Linked DNA regions of Homo sapiens. Changing the gene in region 1 together with any one later gene gives a genetic interaction. Each region holds a gene or a part of one and is shown on either strand. Other genes may lie near its edges.

Evidence for each region. A genetic interaction does not mean that the proteins touch.
Region 2: changes in CIT (region 1) and MFAP1 together harm fitness more than expected from each alone (negative genetic interaction), as found in Homo sapiens cells (one large-scale study listed by BioGRID).

What each region holds. Positions count from the first base shown.
Region 1 is NC_000012.12:119,716,549-119,720,648, reverse strand, and holds part of CIT (citron Rho-interacting kinase), read left to right. Parts: intron 1-63; coding exon 64-171; intron 172-1,787; coding exon 1,788-1,950; intron 1,951-2,239; coding exon 2,240-2,404; intron 2,405-4,100. UniProt on the Homo sapiens protein: Plays a role in cytokinesis. Required for KIF14 localization to the central spindle and midbody. Putative RHO/RAC effector that binds to the GTP-bound forms of RHO and RAC1. It probably binds p21 with a tighter specificity in vivo.
Region 2 is NC_000015.10:43,814,391-43,818,190, reverse strand, and holds part of MFAP1 (microfibrillar-associated protein 1), read left to right. Parts: intron 1-742; coding exon 743-962; intron 963-3,116; coding exon 3,117-3,246; intron 3,247-3,502; coding exon 3,503-3,690; intron 3,691-3,800. UniProt on the Homo sapiens protein: Involved in pre-mRNA splicing as a component of the spliceosome.

The sequences.
Region 1 (4,100 bases):
GTACCAACTTTAAAAGTATACTTCTGTCTGGATTTGAGGTTAGTTTGTTTTCTTGAATTTTAGGTTCTCTATTCTCATGAAAAGGTGAAAATGGAAGGCACTATTTCTCAACAAACCAAACTCATTGATTTTCTGCAAGCCAAAATGGACCAACCTGCTAAAAAGAAAAAGGTGAGTCAAAGTGTTTGAAAAGTGGGAATTGTCAGTTTCACTCATCATTCATGGCTCAGTGGACACCACTGTGATATATGATCATAGGAACATAGAAGAAAACAAAGTATACTTTTTTTGTTGTTTTATTTTGGGTTGAAAAATAGATTTTGAGATAATTATAATAGGTCTTACTGAAAGATATCAGTGATCAAGTCTAACAAACTACTTTTTGTTTATGACCATTCAAATCATAGTATCTTTGTTAAAGAAGTAATCCCTCCCCAGCCCACACACATAGCAGTTGGGGCAGAGGGATGTATGCAGAGAGAAAGATTTATACCAAGTCATGCATACATGACTCTAGAGGGAGTTAGCAAGTCACAAGTATGGGGCTTCAGCAGTTCAGGTCTCTCGTACCACACTCCAGAAAGGACTTTAACAGTGATCTAGTCCAGTCCTTTTGATCGGCTCACAAAGAGACTAGAACTCAGGGAGCTGGGGTGACCTGCCTGAAGTGTCTGACTGGACACTTCTCCCCTCTGCCAAGTACTGAACAACCCTTTTAGATTGCAGGAGACAAATTACAAACTAGGGGCAGGGTTATACATAGTGCACATGAGAAGATTGTTTTTCATAAGCCTGATCTATACATGCTTTCCCAAACCACTAAAGCCTTCATACTAGGTTTGGCCAGGTGTTCTCAGTTCCAGAAAAGTCTTGAAGAAGCTTGCAGTTTCCTTCCAAATGCAGAAGCATACCATAGCAGCAGTGGCAGTGGTTTTGCAGGAGAGGCCTTGATGACTTGGAATACCTAGGAGGAAGGAGTGGAGGGCTGAAGTTGACAGTTGTCTCAATATTTCCGGTGCCATCTTCGCTGTAAGGGCATGAGCACAACATTCAGAGGCCGCCTCCCACTAGACGTTGGCTGCACGGGAAGGATTTTCTTGCATGCTGCGTGACTGTATATGGTTGTTATGCTTATGATATTTAATCTTTTTTATTTTAGCAGTGAACTGTTACCTGGTTATGTCACTTGATTTAGTTAGGGTGTTTCCATTTGTTATTTTTTTTAGTTACCTTTTTTTTAAGTTGCATTATTCTGTTTTCCTTTTTTTTCCATGTATAGTAAATATTTTCATTTGCATTTTTTTTTGAGTAAGCCCCTTGTTTTGACCTCATTTTAGCATTCCTTTTAAAATTTTGCTTCCTTTTACAAAACACTCATCTCTGTGTCTTGTAACTGAGCATCATGAGACATATTCCAAGGCAAGAGTGACCTCTGAACCATCTCTCCTGACTCCATACTCCATACTCTCCTGATTCCATTTTTTGAATGGGAAAGACTCAGGACATGACTCTCCTGTCTTGGCAATGCTAGAGGAAGAGGTGGTGGCCATTCAAGCATCTTTAATCCTCTTGGTGAAAACTTCCGCACCCCTATTTTTTTCAGCCGGCTGGAACGGGCTGTGGCTCAGCCTACCCTTCCCCCCCTTCACATGCCATTTTTACTAAATACACTTACAGTGAGTATGCTCCTGGCTTTTGTGGTTTGCTCCTCCCGAGTCAGATTTCCTTTAGCTAGTTTCAAGTGCCAGTTTCCAGGAGTTAGGAGATATCTCTGTTTCCATTGCTAGGGTTTATTTAGTCGACGGAAAGAGGACCCTGCTTTACCCACACAGGTTCCTCTGCAGTACAATGAGCTGAAGCTGGCCCTGGAGAAGGAGAAAGCTCGCTGTGCAGAGCTAGAGGAAGCCCTTCAGAAGACCCGCATCGAGCTCCGGTCCGCCCGGGAGGAAGGTAGGGGCTCACTCTCTCCAAAATGCTCAAGGATGTGGAAAAGGCAGAGGATTGATCTCAGTGAGATCAGCCAAGACTAACTAGCTCAGTGTCTTCGTTTATGGCCCATACGCTTTCAGACCAGACATCCCATGTCTGAAAAACGTATGGCCCCTGTGCATTGCCAAGTTGATGTGACGCATATTCTTTTGGTCTTGGGTCCTTGAAAGATAGCCCAGGGACATTCGGCTTAGTTTGGTCCTCTAGGCGACCCAGCTAACCAAAAGGCATTGTCCTGGTCTCTCTGCAGCTGCCCACCGCAAAGCAACGGACCACCCACACCCATCCACGCCAGCCACCGCGAGGCAGCAGATCGCCATGTCCGCCATCGTGCGGTCGCCAGAGCACCAGCCCAGTGCCATGAGCCTGCTGGCCCCGCCATCCAGCCGCAGAAAGGAGTCTTCAACTCCAGAGGGTACGTTGGAGTTGTATGGAAATTTCTTTTAGTCGACTAAGACATGTGGGCATATGGTAAAAATTACAAGTAATACTAGGGGTTAAAGATTAAAAAGTCAGTCTTGGCCAGGCACGGTGGCTCACACCTGTAACCCCAGCACTTTGGGAGGCCGAGGTGGGCGGATCACCTGAAGTTGGGAGCTCAAGACCAGCCTGACCAACATGGAGAAACCCCGTCTCTACTAAAAATGCAAAATTAGCTGGGCATGGTAGTGTATGCCTGTAATCCTAGCTACTCGGGAGGCTGAGGCAGGAGAATTGCTTGAATCCGGGAGGCGGAGGTTGCGGTAGCCGAGATTGCGCCATTGCACTCCAGCCTGGGCAACAAGAGGGAAACTCCATCTCAAAAAAAAAAAAAAAAAAAAGAAAGAAGTCAGTCTCCTGGCTCCCCATCCTCAGTGTTGGTTCATATATGTGACCACATGTCTATACCATTCATGTATCTTACATTGTGTGATTATATTTAAAGAATATGAGAAAATAGGCTGGGCATGGTGGCTCACGCCAGTAATCCCAGCACTTTGGGATGCTGAGGCAGGCGGATCACCTGAGGTCAGGAGTTTGAGACCAGCCTGGCCAACATGGTGAAACCTCGTTTCTACTAAAAATACAAAAATTAGCTGGGTGTGGTAGCATTCTCCTGAAGTCCCAGCTACTTGGGAGGCTAAGGCAGTAGAATCATTTGAACCCAGGAGGTGGAGGTTGCAGTGAGCCGAGATCACCCCACTGCACTCCAGCCTGGGTGATAAAGTGAGATTCCATCTCAAAAAAAAAAAAAAAAAAAGAAAAGAAAAGAAAAAAGAATATGAAAAAATAAGCACATCTCTCTCTCAGGCCTTTTTTCTTTTATAAATATTATAGTGGTGGCTCACGCCTGTAATCCCAGCACTTTGGGAGGCTGAGGTGGGCGGATCACCTGAGGTTGGGAGTTCGAGACTAGCCTGACCAACATGGAGAAACCCTGTCTCTACTAAAAATACAAAATTAGCCGGGTGTGGTGGTGCATGCCTGTAATCCCAGTTACCTGGGAGGCTGAGGCAGGAGAACTGTTTGAACCTGGGAGGCAGAGGTTGCAGTGAGCCAAGATAAAGCCATTGCATTCCAGTCTGGGCAACAAGACTGAAACTCTGTCTCAAAAACAAAAACAAGAAAACGTAAGCTTATCTTTCAGGCCTTTTTTCTCTTATAAATATCATAGCACACTACAGTATACACTGCAAGACACCTTCGTTTCATTAAAGTGCTATCTTAGAGGTTTCACATTAGTACATAAGGACCTACCCCATTCTTTCAGAGAACCACACAGTATTCCGTGGTGTGAGCATGCAATTCACCTGTTAAGCCAGGCTCCTGTTGATGGCCATTTAGGTTGTTTCCAATCCCCTGTTACTGTAAACACCTTGCAGAGGACATCCTGTGCCTCTGTGGGTGTTGTGCCTGGAGAAATTCCTGGGAAATGAATCACTGGGTTAAAGGTCATGTACATTTTGAGTGCTGGTAGTTTGTGCCAATGTTTATTTCTACCAACAGTGTGAGGAGTTTTCTTGCTGGTCTCAAATGTACTCCATTTACCTAGAGATTAAAAGGACTTAAGAAAAGGCCAAGGAAGCTGTTTGGAATGTCTTAGGAACACTAGGGTAGAGCTGTGGTTTAGC
Region 2 (3,800 bases), on another chromosome or scaffold:
AAAATTAGCTGGGCATGGTGGCATGCGTCTGTAGTCCCAGCTACTCAGGAAGCTGAGGCAGAAGAATCACTTGAACCCGGGAGGCGGAGGTTGCAGTGAGCCGAGACCACGCCACTGCACTCCAGCCTGGGCGACAGAGCGAGACTCCGTCTCAAAAAAAAAAAAAAAAAAAGAATTGTATTTGTAAGAGATTACATACTCTTGCATGTTTGATAACACATAAGGTAAAGGAAAAGAAGGTAGAAATAGGTAAGATTAGAATATTGAGTCATGTGGCAGTATGTTATAAAGGCTGCCATGGAAATTCCAGAGGGAACTACAAGAATGCCTGAGCAGTTTTATGTTCCTGCAGAAATTACCCTTACTATGTGCTGGGCACTGTTACAAATAATTTGTTTAAGGGTATAGTTGAGGTGGGATACCATGAATTTGTGATGGATGCAGTCTGCCTTTTTGGGGGGGGACTTTTTTCTACTGTTTCACTGCCTACCTTCCTCTACTTCATTGTACTCAAGGTAAGCCTCATTATCATCAGTGTTGGCTTTCACAAGGATGCAGTCTCATGACTTGGCCTTTGTAGGAAAACACCATTAGAAGAGTAGATGGTTGGGTAGTGGCTCTCTTCTTCTTCTGCTTAGACTCTTGTCTACTATGAATAAAGGGCTCTATTTGCAAAGGCCGTGATGGGTTGAAGCACATTGAGAAAGAGGCTACTGAAACATAAGTTACCTTTCTCGCCCAGGTGAGATTTCAATGGAAAAAGTGAAGGTAAAGCGTTATGTGTCCGGAAAAAGGCCAGACTATGCCCCTATGGAGTCCTCAGATGAGGAGGATGAAGAATTTCAGTTCATTAAGAAAGCCAAAGAACAAGAAGCAGAGCCTGAGGAACAGGAGGAGGATTCATCCAGTGACCCCCGGCTACGGCGTTTACAGAACCGTATTAGTGAAGATGTGGAAGAGAGGTAATGTCTGTGATTGTGTTTACTTGAACATGAACCTCTACAGCTTAATAATAATAATAATAGCTAATACTTGAATAGTACTACCAAGTAGATTACATTTGCTAATTCTTGTAATCCATACAATAACTTTATGAAATAGGTGCTATTATCCCCATTTCACAAAAGGAGGAAACTAAGAGCACAAAGGGGCTAAGAAAGTTACATGACCAAAGCTACAAAGTGGCAGCTTCAGGAAACAGCAGGTTACTTCTGGCCTAAAGGACCTACTCAACTCCTTATGGGAATAGAAAACACAGACCATTTGTTGGCTGTTGAGAGGAGTCTTTTTAGCACAAAGATGTTTTATAAACTTTGGTAAATTGATTTTATACATCTACTTATTCTAAATGCTAATAAGGGGAAATGACACTGAAGTAGGAGAAAAGACCTTATAAAGGTCTCATGGTAGAAAGAGAGCCTCCCAGTGAGGGATTTTGTATGTTATATATTGATGGAGACATTACTTTATAGAGTAGGCCAGGAGTCCTGAACTTTCACCGTTCATAATTGTCCCAGGAGTTTTTTCACAGAGCTCCTGGGCCAAAACAGTTCTGTTTATTTTAGTTATTAAGTAGTTAGAGCCAAGTAACTTAATAAGTATTTATGTCCTAATAACTTTGCCACTTGAAGATTAACAGTGCCCATGGCCAGGTGCGGTGGCTCACGCCTGTAATCCTAGCACTTTGGGAGGCTGAGGCGGGTGGATCACGAGGTCAGGAGTTCAAGACCAGCCTGGCCAACTTGGTAAAACCCCATCTCTACTAAAAATACAAAAAAATTAGCCAGGCCTGGTGGCGGGCACCTGTAATCCCAGCTACTTGGGAGGCTGAGGCAGAGAATTGCTTGAACCTGGCAGGCAGAGATTGCAGTGAGCCGAGATCACGCCACTGCACTCCAGCCTGGGTGACAAAGCGAGACTCCATCTCAAAAAAAAAAAAAGAAAAGAAAAAAGAAAAAAAAATAAAATTACAGTGCCCAGGGGGGAAAAAACACTTTTATTCATTCTCACATAACCATAGTTACTAGTGGAATTTGTTTGCCTGTTGGACACTGACAGCCTTTCAAACCTTGGAATCAGCACTGTCACTTTTTCATGTCTTGTTTTATATTGATTTTCATACTATACTTTCTTTTACTTTTTATCACAGCAGCCACCAAAACCCAGTTTCACAAAGACACGATATTCTCGAAAGGAATGTAGTGTGACTTAATGTTGAAAGTGAATTATCTTGAGCTATTAAAAATATTCCAATGCAGGCCAGGCTCAGTGACTCATGCCTGTAATCCCAGCACTTTGGGAGGCCTAGGCAGGCGGATCACCTGAGGTCAGGAGTTCAAGACTAGCCTGGCCAATATGGCGAAACTCCATCTCTACTAAAAATAAAAAAATTAGCTGGGTGTGGTGGTGCATGCCTGTAATCCCAGCTACTCGGGAGGCTGAGGCAGGGATTATCACTTGAACCTGGGAGGTGGAGGTTGTGGTGAGCCAAGATCATGCCCTTGCACTTCAGCCTGGGTGACAGAGTGAGATTCTGTCTCAAAAAAAAAAAAATCCCAATGCATCCCTATGAGTTTGCTGGCTTGCTGTGGTGCCCCAGGATGCCTCAACATACATTTAGTATTTCAGGCCCAACTTGACTATTCGCTCTGACATCCTAGTTTAGTTTCTTTAATCTGCACCTCAGTTTCCTCCACCTCAATACTTTAATACTGGATGGACATGGTGGCTCACACCTATAATCCCAGCACTTTGAGAGGCTGAGGTGGGCAGATTGCCTAAGTCCAGGAGTTCAAGACCAGCCTGGGCAACATGGTAAAACCCCGTCTCTACAAAAAATACAAATATTAGCCAGGTGTGGTGGCACGCCTATAGTCCCAGCTACTCAGGAGGCTGAGGTGGGAGGATCACTTGAGTCTGGGAGGCAGAGGTGGCAGTGAGCCAAGATCGCACCACTGCACTGCAGCCTGGGCGACAGAGCAAGACCCTGCCTCAAAAAAAAAAAAACTTCAGTATTAATGAAGGCAAACATAATGTGCTCTGTGGCTATGGAAATGCAGTTGATGCTACTTCATTTTTATGACATTGGTGTTACATTTGGAGATACTGTTTTTCAGATTGGCTCGACATCGAAAAATAGTGGAACCTGAAGTGGTAGGAGAGAGTGACTCAGAAGTAGAAGGAGATGCTTGGCGCATGGAACGAGAAGACAGCAGTGAAGAAGAGGAGGAGGAAATTGATGATGAGGTATGATAAAGGAACATGGGAAGTTTTTTTCTGGATATAAGAAAAAGTTCATGCCAGTGCTCATTTGTTGAAGCCTTAAAAACATGAGATCACTGCTTTGGCAGGACTCTGATCATGTTCCTTGTTTGTGGGGATAGGATTAAAAATAGAATGATACTAAGTTGTATCTTTTTACATTTGAATTTGTTGTGTTTGATGAGACGAACAAAAAGCCATAGGCCATTTGACTGACTGGCTTATATATATGACTTGATAGGAAATAGAGCGGCGGCGTGGCATGATGCGTCAGCGAGCACAGGAGAGAAAAAATGAAGAGATGGAAGTCATGGAAGTGGAAGATGAGGGTCGTTCTGGAGAGGAGTCAGAATCAGAGTCTGAGTATGAAGAGTACACAGACAGTGAAGATGAGATGGAGCCTCGCCTTAAGCCAGTCTTCATTCGAAAGTAAGTATCTCACAAGCCAGATCTGAATCCACTTAATTACCACTTTCCAGGCCTGGAGACAAAAGTCTGTTTTCTGTCTTGCTATTCTGAAATCTAAACGCTGAGTGAAA